Homo sapiens: one gene and its partner. The protein of the gene in region 1 interacts with the protein of each later gene in a pairwise test. Each region holds a gene or a part of one and is shown on either strand. Other genes may lie near its edges.

Region 1 (3,913 bases):
TACTGCAGATCCGGCCTAATCTCACCAACAAGCTGAGGCCCATTGCACCAAAGTGGAAAGTGATGCCACTGGTTTCTATGCCCACACACCTGGCCCCTTACACTCAAGTCAAGAAAGAGTCAGAAGACAAAGATGAAGCGGTGAAGGAGTGTGGGAAAGAAAGTCCCCACGAAGAGGCCTCATCTTTCAGCCACAGTGAGGGCGATTCTTTCCGCAAAAGTGAAACACCTCCAGAAGCCAAAAAGACCGAGCTGGGTCCCCTGAAGGAGGAGGAGAAGCTGATGAAAGAGGGCAGCGAGAAGGAGAAACCCCAGCCCCTGGAGCCCACATCTGCTCTGAGCAATGGGTGCGCCCTCGCCAACCACGCCCCGGCCCTGCCATGCATCAACCCACTCAGCGCCCTGCAGTCCGTCCTGAACAATCACTTGGGCAAAGCCACGGAGCCCTTGCGCTCACCTTCCTGCTCCAGCCCAAGTTCAAGCACAATTTCCATGTTCCACAAGTCGAATCTCAATGTCATGGACAAGCCGGTCTTGAGTCCTGCCTCCACAAGGTCAGCCAGCGTGTCCAGGCGCTACCTGTTTGAGAACAGCGATCAGCCCATTGACCTGACCAAGTCCAAAAGCAAGAAAGCCGAGTCCTCGCAAGCACAATCTTGTATGTCCCCACCTCAGAAGCACGCTCTGTCTGACATCGCCGACATGGTCAAAGTCCTCCCCAAAGCCACCACCCCAAAGCCAGCCTCCTCCTCCAGGGTCCCCCCCATGAAGCTGGAAATGGATGTCAGGCGCTTTGAGGATGTCTCCAGTGAAGTCTCAACTTTGCATAAAAGAAAAGGCCGGCAGTCCAACTGGAATCCTCAGCATCTTCTGATTCTACAAGCCCAGTTTGCCTCGAGCCTCTTCCAGACATCAGAGGGCAAATACCTGCTGTCTGATCTGGGCCCACAAGAGCGTATGCAAATCTCTAAGTTTACGGGACTCTCAATGACCACTATCAGTCACTGGCTGGCCAACGTCAAGTACCAGCTTAGGAAAACGGGCGGGACAAAATTTCTGAAAAACATGGACAAAGGCCACCCCATCTTTTATTGCAGTGACTGTGCCTCCCAGTTCAGAACCCCTTCTACCTACATCAGTCACTTAGAATCTCACCTGGGTTTCCAAATGAAGGACATGACCCGCTTGTCAGTGGACCAGCAAAGCAAGGTGGAGCAAGAGATCTCCCGGGTATCGTCGGCTCAGAGGTCTCCAGAAACAATAGCTGCCGAAGAGGACACAGACTCTAAATTCAAGTGTAAGTTGTGCTGTCGGACATTTGTGAGCAAACATGCGGTAAAACTCCACCTAAGCAAAACGCACAGCAAGTCACCCGAACACCATTCACAGTTTGTAACAGACGTGGATGAAGAATAGCTCTGCAGGTATGGGTTTGCTCTGAGGCATTGCGATTAGCCTGGTGAGGAGCTTTCTTACAGGGAGATGGGTCTGCTTAGAGGCAGCTAGCATCTCCCAATGCCAAGCAGGATAGTAGCTTGCTGGAGTAGGATTTATTTTAATGAAAGACCAGAACATGAAAACTAAGTCCTAATCATTCTCTTAAGTCCTCTAGTTTAGAGCTGGGAACTAGAATAAAACGGGTTTAGAGAGATAAAGTTCACAGATTACTACTGCTTTTTTTAGGCCTTCATCATCCATAATCCTGAATTACCCAAGGCAAGCTCCAGTGTCCAGCCAAGGCTATCTTTCATTTTAATTATTAGATACTAACTTCTGTCACCATTCCATTTCACCACCCCACCTTTCCATAGCAATGCCAATGACTTATAAAGTGACAAAAAGTTGAGCAATGGAAGAAAGATTGGAGAGTGCTAGAAGTAGTTACTATATAGAGATTCCTTAATCAGCTCATGAATAGCTTAAAGTTGTCTTTATGATTGTTACTTGTAATGAATGCTTTTTTGCAGCTTACTTTTAGTAATTGCCACCTTCCACCTCTTCCCTTTGGTTATTTTCTACATTAAGTGTCCTATGAATGAGCATGTGCCCTTAACAGGTTGGTAGAAAAATATTCTTCTTTGCAGAACATTGAGATGAAAAGAAGCTTATTTTCTTCTTTCATCTTTTGGTTTTCTTGTGGATAGACCAGTATTAGAGCCCACCTTTAACAAAGATAGAGGCAATGTGTGCCCTTGAGGTTTCATTTCACATAAAGAAACAAATGGCTTTCTGTACACTTATGTTAATGTGCATGGAGTCCCATAGCTTGAAGATAATGTGCATCATGTGTCATAGAAGTTCCATGCCTTATATAGTCAACCATGCCCAGACCATTTGTGTCATTTTTAGGAAACAGGGCAGAGACCAAGGTCAAATGCTTTGGCAGATTAGTTTCACCAGCCATTTTCAAATGTTGAGGATAAGCAAGGCTGGGTCTTAACCAATCTCTTTCATTTGCCCATTTGTGTTTTCTCTACTTCTTTTTCTCTCCCTTCCAGCATGATGCCCGCATACACTAAGGGCCCTCCTATGTGTTCAGGTGGTCCTCCACCTTCGGCCATTCCCCAAGATGGGAACCCAACCTGAACTAAACCTTCTGTGCTGACCAATCCAGTTGACGTCATGTTAAGTTACGGATTTGCTCCTAGTTAATTAGCTCTTAATTCACGATCGAATATGAAAAACTAATAACATATAATCGCTCACCACACCCTATTGTCAGAGCATTGGTTTACAAATAGAAGACTTTCAGAACAAGCTAGAAAGGTAGGACACTAGGAGAGTTCCAGGTAGAGAGCGGTATTTACATGGCATGGCTTTGGGCTTGCCTCACATCAGACAGAGGGGTTTACTGGGTGTGAAGATGGCCAAGATGAAATAAAAAGTTAAAATATCTGACCTGGGACTTTCCCCTGAGTGAGGCGATCTACGCTTCTGATGGAGAGGAGTCCTCCTATAACTCTAATTGCTATCTAGACCCAAATGAAGACTATCTTTTTGGTTTGCATGTTTTTATCATGATGATTGAATGTGTTATTGGCAGATTCTTCTCATTCTTTCCAAGCATGATTTGTTCAGCTCACGGAATTGAAAGAAAAGCCAAAATGCATCCATTGAATTCACACCTGAGCTTGGGGTTCAACAGCGTCCTATTTATTTGCTGCATAACATTTTAAATCTTAAATAACTTGCCATTATGTTTTCCTGGTTCTTAAAAAAAAAGAGGGGGGGCATACAGAGAATACTTAGAGAGAAGAAAGATATTTCAAATCCAATAGTGGTGGGTTGAAACCATGGTGAAGAGGACAAATAGGTAATATTTATTTGTACTATAACAAAGACCACTTTTCCACCTGTTAGGTTTGTAATCTTTTTTAGAAAATTAATATAATTGCCAAAACACTCTGATATGTAGATAGGGAGAGGTAAGGAAAAGAAAGCTTGATCCATCGTCAGTCAGAATCTGGAGTGTATGATACCTGTTCTAGGGATTCAAAGGTGAACCAATAATTTGGAAAAACATATACAAAAGGTACTTCCAAATCCATTAAATACATAGATAAGATAGCCATTTTGGCACTTCTCTGCATTTGTACAGGATGAGTATATCTAATTTGGACCTCGAAAGCACCGTATTGGTGTTTTCATTATACAAAACCAAAGCTCCATCCTTACAAGCACCATTAGGCTGTGGTTCTGAGAGGATTGCAGAAAAACAGGTTTGAGTGTTTGGGACTCACTCAAAGCCATGGGCGTGTATGTATGTTTTGTAAACAGAAAAGATGGTGCAGGTACTGGCTGTGTTTGTGTTCATCGTAAAAATACTCCTATCTGCCTGAATGTTTCCCCCATCTGTACAAAGGTCGATTCTTGGTGCTTTGGTCACCTTAGAAAAAAATGCCTCCACCCCCGGG
Region 2 (3,913 bases), on another chromosome or scaffold:
GACCCAAGGGCTGTCAGGCTTCCCCCGGCCCAGTGATTCTCAATCGGGAGGGAATGTATCTCCCAGCGTACTTTCGGCAAGGTTTGGAGATATTTTTGATTTCATGCCTGTGCTATCAGCATCTAGTGGGTGGTGGCCAGGGATGCTAAAATCCTACAAAGCACAGGACGGTCCCCACAATAAAGAATTATCCAGCTCAAAGCATCAATATTCCCACGGTTGAGAAACCCATCCGCAAAGCCACTTCGTGGCCCTCCAGGGGGTGTGGCTGCCCTACTTTCCACCTTCATGCGTGGGGCAGGACTGAGAGGGCCCTCAAACCAACACGCTCAGGCCGCAGAGAGTGACAAAAAGTTTATTCTGTGCTTCTCGCAGCATTAGGCAGGGGATAAAACTGGAGAGAGGGCCTGGTGTGGAGGTGGAGGGACTCTGTGGGCTTCACTCTGGTAGGAGGAGAGCATCAGGGCAGGCCTTTAGGCTGTTGCTCTGGGCAGGGGGTGGGGGTGCGGGGGCTTACAGTGGGGGCCCTTAGTTGGCACAGGTTCGGAAGGGCCCCAGGCAGACATGAATTCTCCTGAGACTTGAGGTAGGTTGCTTCAGCCAGCCCGGGCGGAGAAGAAGGGCAGAGAGCGAACATAGGAGTCCAGTCGGGAGCGAAAGAGCTCACTTTGCACAGTTTGGCCCAGCGGGCACAGGGGATTCTTCACCACCAGCTCCACATACAGCTATGGAAAGGGAAGATGTTAGAGCCAGGCTTTGGATACTTCTGGTTTTTAGCCCCAAACCTTGTATAACCTCAGGGGTGTGTGAATGCACAAGGAATAAGGGCTGGAAGGCAAGCCCTCTCTGAGGAGAAAGTGGTGGTGGGAGTTAAGAACCTAAGGGCCCCTGAGAAAACTCTTGAGTTGAGCAAACATATAGTAGGATTGGGGCAGGGGAGATGAGGGAGTCTTGGGGTTCTGAAGAGCTCTGGGGGATGGGTCCCTGGGGCTGGCACTGACCGCACTGTAGATGTGGTGCAGCACATCTCGGATGGGTCCCACGCCCAAGTCAGTATTCATGACAACTTTGATCCCAGTGGGCGTCTCGTAGTAATGGAGTTTGTAACGGCTAGTTTGGAAGGCCAGGAAGCCATCCTTCCTGCAGAGATGAGGAGGGTGTTAAAGAATGGGAGCAGAATCTCTCCCAAAGAGACACTTCTGATCCCCGCAAACATCGACTCCCTCTTTATCTAAACATATCCTTTGTAGAAGCCTGGTTGAGTAAAGACATCGCCCATCGTCACCCCTCAATTTAGCCCCCACCAACTTCTCTACTTTCAGACCCTCCCCACCCCCACTCCTGCCAGCTCCAGCACTCTCGCTCCGGACTCAGCCTCTCTTAAGTACCCTTTCCCCCCTCTGGAGGCCAATGCTCCTTCCACTTCAGAAAGTTTCCCCCATCCCCAAATTCCCAAGGCTAGCCCTCCTCCCAACATCTTCTCTGACTCCGCGTACATGTCTAGCGGGGACATCTTGCTGACAAACGAGCGGATAGAGAAGAGCATCCCGTACATCAGCTTATACTCCTGGAGGGAGAGGGGCAGAGTTAGCTCTCGGTTGATGCGGGAGATGGGGTGGGGGGTGGGAACGAGCTGGGGTTTGGAGAGGAGGGGCTGGGTTGGGACTATAGGTGTTTGGAGATGAGAGGTCGCCCGGGCTGCACCGGGGCCCTCTCGTCACCTCCTCCTTGGGAATCCCTGCTTGCTTCTTGCGGTGCCATTCGCTGTAGTGCAGACACACTCCATTCCGGTCAAACAGGTACAGGTTGTGGACAGTCATCTGCAGGGCAGGGAGTGTGAGCCTCGCTCCGGGGCCGCCCCCACTCCTTGGGCTCGGGTTCCCGGACCCACAGCCTTCCAACCAGGTGGGGACCCCACCCACGGACTCACCGGAACTGCTCCGAGTGCCCGTCAAGAGTTACTTCCGGTTTCCACGGAGCTCCGCCCCTTAGGGGGGTTCTCGCTCGGCCGCGGCTGGGCATTAACTCCGCTCCAGTGCTGCTTGTCAGACTCCGCCTCCCTCCCTCAGCCAATCTGTGGCCACCGGAGCCGCGCACGCGCGGCCAGGCGCTCGGGATACAGAAGTGATGTGAGTGTCTGCGAGCGTGGTCTCGCGGGCGGGTGACGTCATCGAGGCGAGAGAGGCGGAGCCGTGGACAGTGGGCGGGAGGCTGCCAACGGTTTTGAGCGTAGGGGGAGGCGTGAGAGGGGGATCTCAGGGGAGGAGGTCAATCGCTTGCCCCCCACTTTGGCAAATTGGGGACTGAGGACTGGAAGGGTGGAGAGTAGGCGGAACCAGGTGGTCGTCGGGGCAGAGGATCTCGGGCTAGGCTTGAGGGCGGCGTGCTTCTTAGGGACGACTTAGGGCGTGACTGAGGGTTCACAAGGTTTCTTTTGGGGTGGTCGGGAGGGAGAGATTCTAGGGAACAAGGAAGCTCGCTATGGCTTTCTTGCCAGGAGGGGTCGAAGGGAAAGTACAAGGGAGCTGGAGCTGACCCTGGGTAGAACGGGTGAAGGGATGGGGGAGCGTGAGGTTCCGCCCTCTCTTGAGACTGGAACCAATTGAGGGACTAGTAGGGCAGGGGGACAGAAATTGGGCTCCTAGTGGATTTGGGTCCGTTTCCGTTGGGACGTTTTGGGTGTGAGAACTTAAGAGCTCAGTTGACCGGGGATAGCCTGTGCCGGAGTTGATCTGCAGCTTCCAGCACTCGTAGTCGGGAAGAGGAGCTTCAGCAGCGCTGTTGTCCCACAGTAGGTCTTCTGTCCGCACCCGCTCTGCGCTGCACCCTCTTAACGCTGTTCCCAGGAGCTGGGGAAAGGGATGCTTTTGCCCACTCCCATGGCCCCTGGAACTGGTGGAAACCTTTCCTCTAACCAGAAAGCCTCGATATCCTTAATTCACCAAGGATCCTTGGCGTGGAGTCTTCCTCCCTTCTCCCAAGTCTTTCTCCGTGAACTTTTCCTCCTGGACTTTGCTAAAGCAGAACCTCCCAGCTCTTTGCTGTCTCCGGTTGTCTCTTCCCTGTATTCATGGCAACATCAGCTGACAGCCCCAGTTCACCCCTCGGGGCGGAGGATCTCCTGAGTGATTCATCAGAACCCCCTGGGCTCAACCAAGTGTCGTCTGAAGTGACCTCCCAGCTCTATGCTTCTTTGCGCCTCAGCCGGCAGGCGGAGGCCACGGCCCGAGCCCAGCTGTATTTACCCTCCACCTCCCCGCCTCATGAAGGGTTAGACGGCTTCGCCCAAGAATTGAGTCGAAGCTTGTCAGTCGGATTGGAAAAGAACTTGAAGAAAAAGGTGAGGGAAGTGTGTCTTGGAGACCACTGTGGCACTAGACACCAGAGAGTCTTGGGATTGGGGTTGGTAAAAATAAAAAGCTTTGATGAGATTTGAACTCTTCCTGTTGGATTTCATATTCCTTTTAACTGCATAGGCAGCCATGCTTATAAGGGAGGGAGTGACCTGGGACACCATAATTTGAAAATTATGAAACTTCCCAGTGTTTTTTTGTGAGAGACATCTCTGCTCCGAGTAGATAGAGCAAACCTATGGGGTAGGTTGGTGAGCTATTTCCCGTGCACTGGGAATGGGTAAGGTTTCTTGATCCCAAGAGGGAGCTAGGGACTTAGGATAGCAGCTCCGATCCTTCCAGCTCAACACTATGTTGATAGTATGGTTCCAACTTTGGCATGTACATCATTAAGACATAGCTTAGTCAACTACAACATGTTACAGAGAAGATAGTTATTAGTATTGTATAGAAAAGGTGTCAGAGTCAATTTGCAGACTGGTTAGGTCTTCCAGAGTTTGAAAATGATAGCCATAAGCCATACAGTCCTTACATTTGTTCTTGAATCGGCAAGAATCTCC

What was found.
Region 2: the proteins of TSHZ2 (region 1) and CNTROB interact in binary tests that used the Homo sapiens proteins (3 or more experiments, as listed by UniProt).

The regions. Positions count from the first base shown.
Region 1 is NC_000020.11:53,255,149-53,259,061, forward strand, and holds part of TSHZ2 (teashirt homolog 2), read left to right. Parts: coding exon 1-1,415; 3' UTR 1,416-1,423; intron 1,424-3,913. UniProt on the Homo sapiens protein: Probable transcriptional regulator involved in developmental processes. May act as a transcriptional repressor.
Region 2 is NC_000017.11:7,930,010-7,933,922, forward strand, and holds the start of CNTROB (centrobin), read left to right. Parts: upstream 1-2,196; 5' UTR 2,197-3,070; coding exon 3,071-3,340; intron 3,341-3,913. Other genes in the region: TRAPPC1 (trafficking protein particle complex subunit 1), read right to left, coding at 597-725, 1,002-1,140, 1,497-1,567, 1,722-1,820. UniProt on the Homo sapiens protein: Required for centriole duplication. Inhibition of centriole duplication leading to defects in cytokinesis.